Regions from separate parts of the Homo sapiens genome. Here regions 2 and 3 are each linked to region 1. The links come from fine-mapping of genetic effects on gene expression. A gene starts in region 1. Each other region holds a variant in brackets. All regions are shown on one strand. Distances are between the middles of the regions. Region 1 holds the start of SLC2A12 (solute carrier family 2 member 12). Region 2 overlaps SLC2A12 (solute carrier family 2 member 12). Region 3 overlaps SLC2A12 (solute carrier family 2 member 12).

The links.
Region 2: its variant is fine-mapped to the expression of SLC2A12 in putamen (GTEx, PIP 0.95).
Region 3: its variant is fine-mapped to the expression of SLC2A12 in esophagus muscle (GTEx, PIP above 0.99). The same link has a PIP of 0.9 or more in aorta.

What each region holds. Positions count from the first base shown.
Region 1 is chr6:134,050,612-134,054,856 of GRCh38, forward strand. SLC2A12 (solute carrier family 2 member 12) reads right to left here and starts at 2,013. Exons shown (of 5, transcript NM_145176.3): 1 at 1,767-2,013. The coding sequence starts at 1,869.
Region 2 is chr6:133,990,615-133,994,855 of GRCh38, forward strand. SLC2A12 (solute carrier family 2 member 12) reads right to left here. Exons shown (of 5, transcript NM_145176.3): 5 at 1-694. The coding sequence ends at 541. Among named protein-coding and RNA genes, the nearest start is that of TBPL1, 40 kb to the left of the region's middle. The variant T/C (reference allele first, on the strand shown) is at 2,305.
Region 3 is chr6:134,018,089-134,022,333 of GRCh38, forward strand. All of the region lies in intron 2 of SLC2A12 (solute carrier family 2 member 12), which reads right to left. Among named protein-coding and RNA genes, the nearest start is that of SLC2A12, 32 kb to the right of the region's middle. The variant G/A (reference allele first, on the strand shown) is at 2,137.

The DNA of each region.
Region 1 (4,245 bases):
ATGGTTACTACAAAGGCTCTTCCTAGGCAGTTTCTTTTCATCTTCTTTGTGACATTATCACTGACTGTATTTAGTGAGCCCTTTTGTTAACATCACCACCTCAGCTTGCTCTGCAGTCTAGACTGCAGCTCATGTTCCCAGGAATTTGGAGAAAAGAACTTTGCAACTCTTTCCCTTTATCTCCAAATATAAGTTTCCCTTGCCTGCTCTTAGGGAACTTGTGGGCCAATGAGTAGCAAGCGCTTAGGGAAAAGGGTACTTCTGCATAGGAGAGGACAGGCCATATTGAAAGATGACCCCAGATATTCTTTTATTATTATTATTATTATTATGTTAGACAGAGTTTCACTCTGTCACCCAGGCTGGAGTGCAGTGTCATGATCTCAGCTCACTGTAACCTCCAAGTGATTCTTGTACCTCAGCCTCCTGAGTAGCTGAGATTACAGGCATGTGCCACTATGCTCAGCTAATTTTTTTATTTTTCTGTATTTTTAGTAGAGATAGGGTTTCCGCTCTGTTGGCCAGGCTTGTCTTGAACTCCTGGCCTCAAGTGATCTGCCCACCTTGGCCTCCCAAAGTGCTGAGATTACAGGCATGAGCCACCACGCCCGGCCTCATTCTTGACGAGAAGTGTGAAAGCAAGAGAAGAGATCAGGACATGGAAGATGGAGGGCTTCTCCACTCCTGAAGAGGGCCGCTTCATGCCTCGATGTTAGGGGTCACAGGTTCGATTCCCCAAGATCAGACAAACCCACAAGGCAAACGTCAGTATTAGGACCATTCCCAAGAGAAAGGCAGATGTCTTTTGTATCATTTAGTGTATTGGATTTTGCATGAAATTTCTATATGCTGCTTGGGAATGTAATATCTGATTAAGAATACACAGCTGAGGAAAGTAGTAGGAAAGAGAAGATTTTTTGTGTTTGTTGTCATTTCATATTACAATTACTTTCTATTCCTTGCAGCACAAACTAAATGAGCAGGAAGAGGCAGCAAAAAGCGTACAATGTATTTGTGGGAATTGTAAATGTGGAAGTGAAGACCAGCCTCTGATTTATCAAAGATCATTAAATGAATTAAAACTTTTCCAAATTTCACCTTCAGAAGGTCATCATAGCAAACAAACCTCAGTTTGCAAGGCCAGTTTTAAAGAAGGCAGAACCCAGCAAAGCAAGCGTTTCAGGCTCTGAATAACGCTCAAATTCATCACAAACGTGCTGGGAATTTAAAAAGGAAGTTTGTGTTCTCATTGATTACATAACTAATAATTTTATGAAGCCTGTTTAAAATACTGATTTTTAAAACAGTGGTTATAATGTCAACTGGTTACACAGTGTCCATTTGTGACAATAAATGAAAAAGTGTAAGCAAGCGTGTGCTTGTGTGTGTTTACAAATGAGACTATCTTTGCCAGTGGACCGTTCCAATATGAAAAACATCCATACATTGTATTATGTAAACACAATCAAGGGGACCCATCATACCAGTGGTGGATGTGTAACCTGTATTTTCTTGGCACATAAGGTTCCACCAAGACTTCGATCTTCACAACATTACAGCTCCGAGCTGTCCCACGTCCCACCAGACCCTGTCCCCTTCTCTCCACTCATCCAGCGCGCCCACATGCGCGCGCGCGCATACACACACACACACACACACACACACACACACACACACACACACACGGGACTCAAGAGACAGTACACTCGGGAGATGAGTACAGCTTGCTTCTCTGCGGTCACCCGAGCACTGCAGGCTCACTTTACCTCTCGCCCAGGGAGGATGCCGGCTGCCGCTGCCCTCCGTCTCCACGGCTGTCCCCTTCTGGTTCAGCAGACTGGGGCCCTCGGTGTTTTCAACAGGTACCATGGTCACGTAGAAGTTACAGCCGCTTCCCCGCCACCAAACCGCCCCGACCACCCCCGCTCCCAGGAGTGGTCACTTTCCCCATAATAGCATGCTAAAGAAGAGTGTGGGGAAAAACTTCGGGCAAAGCTAATGTGATTTGTGACCAACTTTGTTTCTATTTCCGAAGGCTTTGCCCTTTTCGGTGACACAGGCTGTTGCTATTCCAAGCAGCCTATCACAGGCAGGGGGAGGGCCGTGAGTCAGAGGATTGTTTTTGCCTTTAGATGCAGAGTTGGAAGCAAGGGGTTAAAAGAAAGGGAACTCAGACGGAGTGTTTGGCCATTAGCTAAGGGTAGCTCTTGTATTCTAGCACCTTTGAAAAGAGGCAGAGAAAGGAAACATGCAGATTTAAATGCAAGCTGAGAGTGGGGATAGAATACTCACAGATGGTATCAGTTAATCTTGCAGAAAGAGGAACAATTTATGCAAAGACATACCAGAAGGAAAAGTGTGTCAATTTTTCAGCAAGACTGTTATTCCAAAAGTCATGGTATTTACCAGCTTACACAAAGCATAAAATACCTTTATTGTTTCAACCTGATTTTGGTCTAGGTAAAGGCCTATATCTTTCTCTCCAAGGCCTTTCAGATAAATCACAGCCTGAGACCAAAAATACACAAACTCAGAATGCACAGATTCTTTAGACTTTTTATATGCTGAGGTTATAGCAAAGTAATCCATTTCTTAATGCAGAATTGTCTTTAAGAGACAAATTAACACTGAATCCTCTGTTAGGTTTCATGTTTGCGTAGGTAGGAGGAGGATACTCCTCACTCAGAGAGGCCAGACTAAGTGGCCCATTGTGTGCGTGTGGTGGACATGTAATCTCAAACAAAATCAGGTCATGAGAGAGGATCTTTTTCTGATTTGTGAACATATTTATAAAAAAGTCTTACAGGGTTATGACATTTTACCTTCAGTTATTCATTCAACAAATCATGTTTATTAAAAAAAAAAGCCTTATAGAGGAAATTGAGATCATCTTAAAAATCATTTGGAATAAAAACTAACATGTGTGGAGCACTTATGTGCCAGAAATTGTGCTAAGCGCAATAACGCAGATGATGACTTTGAGGCAGGTACCAACATTATAGAAGAGGAAATGGAGGTTGGGTAACTTGGCTACAGTCTCACAGCTAATCAGTGGTAGAGCTGAGATTATGAATCCAGGAGGTCTAAAGCTGTAACTCTCCTATATTCTAACTTCCCAGCCTTGTCCTTCTCTAATTTTCTTGGCTTCCTATGGTTTCAGACCTACTCGACTTTAAGAAGATGCCGTGAAATATGGCTTTTAGTCATAGGCATTTCTCTGGACAGAAAAACAAATTTGTGCTTGTATAAGCAGAAGCTAAATTTTTGTTACTTCTTTTCAACATTTTAACTGAATCACTTCAAAGTTCTAAATTCACTTATTTGTACATTTCCTTTGCTTGTCATTAAATAATTCTATATTTTTCTTATCTTTCAGGGAAACAGGTAGCAAATGGAAACAAACCTATAATAATTCAACTAGTCTTTATTATGTACCCGTTGTATGTCTGCTGATAGTGCTAGAAAATGGAAGTCCTCCAGGCATAATCCAGGCCCCTTATGATTAAGAGGGTGAGAAGTTCAGAATCCCACACATCAGTGTCCCCACTAAAGAATGTGTAACGCAACCATGGTTTGAAACAACTCATTTTATTTGTTCCCAGGGTGCATTATAATTATATAGGAGTCCCAGTTTCTATCTGTGAGACACATATGTTTCCCATAAGTTCTCTATATTCTCTTGGCTTCTAACTTCTTTCTGCTCAGAACCAATGACCTCATTAGGGGGAAAATGTTCTTGCAATGGGTTAGTTGTATCATTGCTTTGTTTCGTGATCCCACAACCTGTGTTTCTAGCAGCTTCTTGGCCCCATGGGAGTGTTAGAGTGTTTGCTATAGTGCTTGACTAGACAGAAGACAAAACTAATTCCAGAATACTTTACTATGGTTAAAAGCAGTTCAACAGTTCTCACTCTGTTTTGTGTAGCCAAACCATACAGGAGATCCACAGGCATAGTAAGCCAACCAGGAGTCAAAAAGAATGCTCAGCAATGCAACTGACAACATCACCTCCTGGTGCTCCTAATTCTGTTCTTTATTCTGCTGGTGACCTGACCGGGGCCACTGGCTATCTCAAGCTCTGTTTGTACTTACCTCAATCTCTTAACTCAGAGAAAAGTTTAGGGGAGAAAATTTTTTTCACCCAGACTAGAGGGGGGAAACTCTGCCTCAATTCTGTTACGAACCCTGTACTTCTCCTTCCCAGCCTTTTGCACACCATAATGTATTTAATACAGTTAAATGCGG
Region 2 (4,241 bases), 60 kb before region 1:
GAATTACCACTAAAATCCTAGCCAGGACCCTCTCCTAATCTAGATAGAATATATGGGCAGTTGTCCACACTGTGTGTTCTGGTTCTTTTTTGCGTAAGATCCAGTGCAAGTAGTGTCTTGGTAGGCAGAAACTGTACCCTCATGTCCAGACCACTTGTGTGTCTGCATAATAAAGCTGCGACTGGCCTCCATACATACATAGCTTAAGGCGGAGGTTGATGTCTTCACTAGGACATAGTCTATTCAAAGGCTGCTCTGTGAAGAAGGTAGAAAGTATTAAACCAGCCAGTAACTTTTTTTTTTTAACCTGATATCCTGCTCAGAAAAAGAGATCACTTAGGACCTTGTACCTCATCTACCTTTTGAGGTTCCTTCTGGGGAGGAGGGGGATTAAAGGCTGTCTTTATCATTTCAGAGTGTCTCTTCAAAACCAGTTCCATGACACTGAAAAGAGAGCACAGGAGTCGCAACTATGCATTGGTCCAAAGACACCCTCCTAAGTGTTCTGGCACTATCCACGTTCAGAAGGTGTTGAGGCCATTAGGTCTCTGGAGAAAGCTGCCTGGATTGGCCCCTACCACACAGCTTGTTACACTCCAAGAGCTGCTCCTGGGGTTTTCTTTTTTGAGGCTGTTTTGGCACTAATTCTTCTTGGTGATGACTCATAAAACAAATGTTGTTTTTCACATAGTTCCTGAAAGAGAAAGAGGCACTAATGAAAATGTCATTCTTAGTTTACATGAAAAAAATGTGTAGGCTATTATTTTTTAAACCACCCTGGGGCTTTAATGTTTTAGCTATGCAAAAATAAATACACATTTTTATTAGGAATCCTGCTGCATCATGAAATTCAGTATGCCACAGACTTTGGTCAATCTCATGCAAGGGGTAACGGTGTCTTCTCAGAATACAATCCCAGCAGTCAGCTCTGTGGGGAAGGATTCCAAGGATAGTATTACATACAGAGAACCAGTGGAGGTTTCATCCCAGACCTTATTTTTTTCCATTTCTCAAACTCCAGCAATGTGCCTATATTTATATCTCTTCTATCTTCTACGTTATCCCTTACTCCTGCATTAACAAATTTTTCTACAGGATTCTTCCCATCAGCATAAAAAGATGCTATTGTATTTTACCTTTACTAAAAATGAAGAGCTGCCTTTGAACCTCCCTTTTCAAATACCTTTTTCTGTAATTTAACCAATGATTTGAGTGGCCACAATATGTAGGTAGTATGGGTTGAGTAGATAAAGACTTCTGTTTTCAAGGAGCTTACTTAGATTTTAGAGGGGAGACGAGCTTATAACTTGAAGTAGTAAAAGTGCAAATGAGAAATAAACGGGGAAGGAGAAAAAAGGGTTTAGTTGGGTGGGAGAGGACAGACTGTATTATACAGGTGGCATCTCTCTAAAGCAGTGACAATGATCAGAAAATGGAATGAAGTTAGGGAGGGAACTCCTGCAGAGAATCCCAGAGACCTGAGAAGTTGGGGCAGGGAAACGGTTGGTATCTGGAGGGAAATCTGAGGAAGGTATTTTTTCAGGATGGGAAATACTGCAGCTTTGTGCGTGTGTGCGTGATGATAATCCCATAGGAGGGGGAAATTGATGCAGTCAGTGTACAAATGGAAGCATTGGCCTTTGCAACAAGGCAGTGTGTGTGGGCATAGATGTAGGTAGGTTAGAAGATCTTGTGGCAGGAGGACAAGGTGGTCTCAATTTATTTTCTCAGTGAACTAAAAAGCAAAATAATTAGAGTGAAGAAGTGGGAGGGGGTCCTGGAGGCTTGGGAAAAGTATTGGTGTGAAGTAATCATCTTCGAAAGTAGGAACGTCAACTCACCAGGGAAATGTGGTATATTGCAGGGTATTCCTCAAGATCTACTTGAGATGTATGTTCATAAGGTGAAAACAAGGCTTATCAGCATAGTTGTGTGTTTGATTCAGCCAGGTTTAGCTCCTTGAATGCAGGGTTAAAATAAACTAAGAGTTGACTTGGTCAGAGTTAAGGTTTGCCTGAGTGATGGAGGGAGAGAGAAGAGAGTAAAGGGAGAAGGGGAAATGCGAAGAAGTGGCCTTGGTGGGCCATGGAAAGTAGGAAGCAGGGTAAGGAAGGAAGGGAGAGCATGGGCCTCCAGGTCGTCGTGGGGCTGAAGACTTGTTGAAGTGCCAGTACTTGAGGAAGTGGGCTGGAGAGATGAGTGGTTAGAGGGTGAGTGGAATGCTTGTGAATGAAGCAGTGATTGGAAATGAGTCTAGGGCATGACCATCCTGCTTTTCTGTTCCCCTTCACAGCAAAATTGATG[T/C]AAGGAGTGGACTGTTGCTTCTTCACTTCACTTCCATTTTGTCCTCCAACCACATCAGTCAGCTTCTGTCCTCTCATTCCGCTGAGCCTGTGCTTACATCTGTCTTTGTGCTTGGCCTCTCCAGTCCCACCTTCCTACAACACTTCTGGCTTTCCTCCAGCCTCACTGTTGGCTTCTTTTCAGTCCCTTTTAACACTCTCTTCTTTGCTCGGTCTCTAAGTTTGGCACAAAACTGGGCCTAGTCCCTTCTCTCTCTGTTCTCTGACCAGATAAGCTTATCTGGCTTCAGGACTTAAATACCACTTATAAGCTGATGGCCACCCACATTTGACTCTAACCCCTAGAGTCTCCAAATTTCAGACTTACGTATCCAACTGCCTACTACTAATGTGTCTATTTGATGTCTAATGGACATCTCACAATATCTCCAAATCCGAGCTCTATTCTGTCCTGAGCCCTGAAACCTAGTCCTCTCTCAGGCTTCTGCATCTCACCATCTGTCCAGTTTCTCAGCTAAAACTTGCAGTGTCATCCTGACTACTTCATTACCTTATTCTTGTATCCATTTCATTCATGTTTTTTCATCTATTCAATGCCGAGCTTCGATTATATGCCAAGGAATTGTTCCAAGTGTTGGGAAACAACAGTGAACAAAATTCCCTGGCTTCATGGAATTTAAATATAGCAGGAAGAGATAGACAGTAGACCAAGTAAAATGTAGTGTTTCTGCTTTGGTTAAAACTGAAGGATTGGAAAGTGGGTGCAGAGTTGGCTACACAATTGGGATTTGAAATAGAGGGACAGGAAAAGTCTGTTGGAGGTGAAGCAGCAAGACAGGTGGATATCTAGGATAAGAGAATTCGAGGCAGAGAAAACAAGTGCCACGATCTGGAGCCTTGAGCATGCTTGATGTGTCTGGGATGCAGCCTCTGGCCTGTGTGGCTGTGAGAGAAGAAGGGGAGATTAGCAGGCTGTGCAGGGCTGGAAGGGCATTGGAAGGCTTCTGCTCTTGCTGGAGAGCCACTGGAGGATTGGAGCAAAAGAATACCTTGATTGCATTTTAAGGGGTCATTCTGGCCACTGTGTAGAGAACTGATGGGAGGGGACAAAGGCAGAAATGGGGACCAGTAAGTGGGTATTGCAGTAATTCAGGATGGAGATCATGGTGACTCAGACCAGGGCAGCCGTGAAGGTGTTCAGGCTCTGGATATATTTTGAAGTAAGAGCCAACACAACTTCCTGATAGACTGAATGTGGAGTATGTGAGAAAGAGGAAAGACTCCAAAGTTTGTGGCCAAAGTAGTCGGATAACATTGACATCAACTGAGGTGGGTAAGGCAGTGAGTAGAATAGGTTTGAGAACATCACAGGTTCAATTTAGGGCATGTGAGGTATTAGGTATCTGTTAGACATTTGGAAAGACATGTAGAGTAAGCAGTTGAATAAACAAGCCTTGAATTCTAGAGAGATAGCTAGAGACATAAATTTCAGACCCTGGCATATCAATGAGATAAAAACTGTAAAACTGGCTGGACGCGGTGGCTCACGCCTGTAATCCCAGCACTTTAGGAGGCCGAGGTGGGTGGATCACGAGGTCAGGAGATCGAGACCATCCTGGCTAACATGGTGAAACCCCGTCTCTACTAAAAATACAAAAAAATTAGCCAGGCGTGGTGGCGGGCACCTGTAGTCCCAGCTACTCGGGAGGCTGAGGCAGGAGAATGGCGTGAACCTGGGAGGCAGAGCTTGCATTGAGCCGAGATGGCACTCCAACCTGGGCGACAGAGCGAGACTCCATCTCAAACAAACAAACAAAAAAGAAACTAACATTGACTGAGATCAACTGGCTGGTGAGGGTGATAGAGAAGTGGTCAGGGGACTAAGCCCCAGGGCACACCAACTTTAAGAGAGGAAGCAGAGGAATAGAGACCATAGGT
Region 3 (4,245 bases), 33 kb before region 1:
CAGCATCGTAAATCAATAAAGGGCTTTAAGCACATCCTATGTGTCCCAGAGTGACTTAAGCAAAATGCCTGTTGAAGTCAGTGCTGGCATTATCAGAACTGTTCACCTCATGTCTAGACCACAGCCAGACATTTAATAACACTAATGACTAAGTGTACTAAGTCCATGCCACAAACCATGCACTGAACTAGGGGCACTTTATACAGATTCCTTCATTTAACTCGACAGGCCATCAAGTGGATACAATTGCCCTGTTTTCTAGATAAAACTGAAAGCTAGAGAGATCAATGGACTTGCCCTAAGTCCTGCATGGTGGTGCTGGATTCAAGGCCAGGCAGTCCAATACCAAAGCCTGGTCCACATTCAAACACAATGGCTTTCTTGCAGCTCTCCTCACCCTTCAAGCTCATGTCCTCAAAGCCATCTGACCTGCCATTAGCCCTGCTTCAAGACCCCCTCCTCCAAGATTGTCACACTGCCTTCTTCATACAAACGTTGGCCCAAATGTTACCACCTCAGAAATGTCTTCTGTCACTATCATATCGGAAATAACCCTCCTCCAAGCATGCCCTTTCACTTACCCTCTTTTATTTTTCTTTATCACTCTTACCTCCACCTAAATTTTAACACTTCTGTCTCCTGAAACTGTATCATAGGTGTGTTCATTTTTTTTTTCTTTTCGTCTGTCCCTATCACTGGTTCGTGAAAATAAGATGTGGATCTCCAGCACCTGGTACTGTGCCTGCCATGTTGTGGGTGAGCAAGACACATGTGCTGGATGTGTGAGTGAATCAATGAATCCCTACCACTTCTCTATCTTCTCCTCTTCCTCACTCCAAGATGTTTTCTGGCTGGAATTTCTGCCCATTTGAGTCCTCAGAGTTGGTAGAAGAGATCAGGGGAGGTTATTTGGTGTCATCTGTCACTTGAATATGTGAATACAAAGGTAGCTGAAGGATGACAGTCGCAGCTTTATCACCTAACTTCGTATGTGACCTTGGGAAACATGCCTTCCATCTGCTCAAAGTGAAAACTTATTCATCATGAGATGAAAGAAGAGGTTAATTAATTAATTTATGGGCATATTAATTTTTGGATAAAAAGCCCTAATAATTATTATAAAAAAAACAGTCACATATATTTTCCGGAGTTTCAGTGGCTATTTTAAGGAGGGCTGGGTTTCTACACAAGTGTCACCTCAGATGAACTCATGAAATAATAACATTATGCCTTGGGTTTTGGCTCATCTTGACTTTACTTGTGAAGCATGAATATAAAAATCTTCACGTTGTTCTGTGTCTTCACAATGTCAAGAATCTGTGATTCTACGTTGTGAAAGCTTGAACCATGTTAGAAAAATTCTGTTATTAAAGGGAGCTGAAGTGATGATCAAGAGCACCCCAGAAACAGTGGGGAGTCGAGGTAAGATTTTGAACATATTTGAAGTGAAAGATAAGTTATGGACAACAGAGTGTTTAATAAGTATATATCCTGATTTTGTTTGACATACGGGTTTTAATATTAGCTACAGAAAAATGGAAGGGAGGGGCTCTTAGCCTCTCTGGGGCCATGAACCTCTTCGGTAGGCTGGTGAAGCCTATGGACCCCTTCTTAGAATAATATTTTAAATGCATTCTAGAAGTACATAAGATGTTGGGCGCAATGGCTCATGCCTATAATTCCAGCACTTTGGGAGGCCAAGGCAGGTGGATCACTTGAGGTCAGGTGTTCAAGACCAGCCTGGCCAATATGGTAAAACCCCGTCTCTACTAAAACTACAAAAATTAACCAGGCCTGGTGGTAGTGCACAACTGTAATCCCAGCTACTCAGGAGGCTGAGGCAGGAGAATCGCTTGGACTCAGGAGGCGGAGATTGCAGTGAGCCGAGATCGAGCCACTGCACTCCAGCCTGGGCAACAGAGTGAGATTCCATCTCAAAAAAAAAAAAAAAAAAGTATGTAAGATTACATGAGTACCCCTCCTGGATTCTAAATTCTGGGGCAACCCAATTATTTTACAGTTAGGGGAACAGGGGACCAGAAAGTAAAATGACGTGGGGCATCCACTTTAACCTAAGAATAGAAACACTTTCCTGGCAGAAGAAAATCATGCTGTGATCTAACACAATTAAGGAAT[G/A]TTGTTCTAAGCCAATCCATATTTAAGAAGGTCTAATAAGGATGGTTTAATCTTGCTTTCAATGTTACTTTAGAACAGCAAGTACTTTTCCTTCATACCTCTATTTACACAAAGGATTTATTTGTATTACAAGCAATAAACTCTCTAAATACCTGAGCACTAATCACATCAGCTTAATAAGTTTGGTAATGCATTCAAGATCTGGTATGAAAAGCTTGTTCCTAATAAAAATCTTCTTTAAACTCCAACTAGTTTATATAGTTTATACCAATGCTCTAGAATACAATTGGGGATTGAAATGAAATTACTACAGGATATTTTCTTTAGAAAAGAAAAAGAAACTAAAATGTGAATATGGATGTAAAGGATTGACTCTTAGCAAGAAAAAAAATGGAGAATTATTTGGGTCTCTTTTAAAAACACGAGGAGAATCCATAGCCTCAAGATAAGAATGTGAAATGACTGTTCTCTTTAGATGTGATTTGGATTCCTGCCTCTGACAGCATGACTCCAAGCCTCACGTGTGATTACCCAGGCCAGTCCTTGCACCTGCAGTTGTAAATTGGACAGTCCATGAGATGTAAGAAGTATTTCCTTTTCCTAGATCCAAACTTCCTTCAACCCTGAGATTCTCCAACTCGTTGGCATTGCTTCTGGTCTAAGCAGTTCTCCGAAGCCCCTCTTCTCCATGTTGTAGCAAAAAGCAGAGGATCCAAAAAGCATCCAGAACAACTTTTAGATATTGTGTCCAAAATTCTCGAATAACTATGTATGCCTTAACAAAGAAATGCCTAAATATCTCCCGCTAATTGTTTCTTAACACTACTAAATCTCCTGCATCTTTTCTTACAGCCAAAATCAGAAAGATATTTTTTAAAAATCATGCCCAAGTGATGGATTGTTCTGCAAAAAGCCTCGTGATGGTGTCTGGCAGGAACAGGAGTTTTTTTGGCAGCCTAGTATTTCTAGCTTACTTAGTTCCTAGCCTGCCCACTAGCCAGATCTTTACACAAGTAAAGAAGCCCAATTTGACATTTTTCCTATGTCTGCATCGTATTTTTAAGTCCTTTTCCTTCTTCCTGCTTAAAAACACAAAGGTAAATAAACCAGCATGATTTTTAAACAGACTCATGCTGTGCTCACTTACAGGGACAGAAAGAAAAAATATGAGATGTTTCTTCCTTCAAAATGCTTACAGTCTATAACTACATTCTGGTTAATAAACCAAAATAAACATACAGAAGTAATACCCTATTGCTAAGGACTAAGATGTGTTCTCACATTGTAACTTACATTATATCATACTCTCATACTTTACAGCATCTAAAGCACTCTCATATACATTAGATCATCTGATGTGCACCTGTACTCTAGGAGATAGGACAGATATTACTATGCCCATTACATAGATTAGAAATAGCTCAGAGAAGAAAAATCACGTAAAGGTCACACCACCAGTAAGTAGAAGAGCTGGGATTAGAACAGAGGTTTTCTGATTTTAAATTTATACGTTTGGTAGCCCAGAACTGAATTACTCTAGAAACACACTAGTAGTTCATACAAATAAAGACCTCTAAAAAATGGAGTGGATTCAAAGAGGAGATAAAGCTTTCATTTAACTTCAAAAAGAGGAAGGATCTGGATAGAGCAGAGGCGGAAGGAAGGGGCCACAACAAGTGCTTTGTGTGTATTGACTTGGGTGTGGAGCAGTGGGGAATAAACCCACACTGATAAAGTATTGCCTCATTGCACAACCCCAGGGAGCATCATTCACTTTGTCCGTTATGTGGAGTCTATGGTGGCCCTGGAGCACAAGACTTAAGACTACAAGTAAATCGTGGCCCTATGGTCCTGCAGACACCCTGATAGAGCTGGGTGAGATAATGGAGGGTCTTGAAAAACCAGAGGTTTTGCCTCAAACATAGGTGATATAGAAGCAGAAAGAACATGGATTAGCTTTCAGGTACCTAGGGTTCTATTCCCAAATCTGTGTGCCCTCAATCTCCCAGAATTTCTTTTACTTGTTTTCTATTGAATGGCTCATGCCTGTAATCCCAGCACTTTGGGAGGCTGAGGTGGGTAGATCACTTGAGGTCAGGAGTTCAAGAC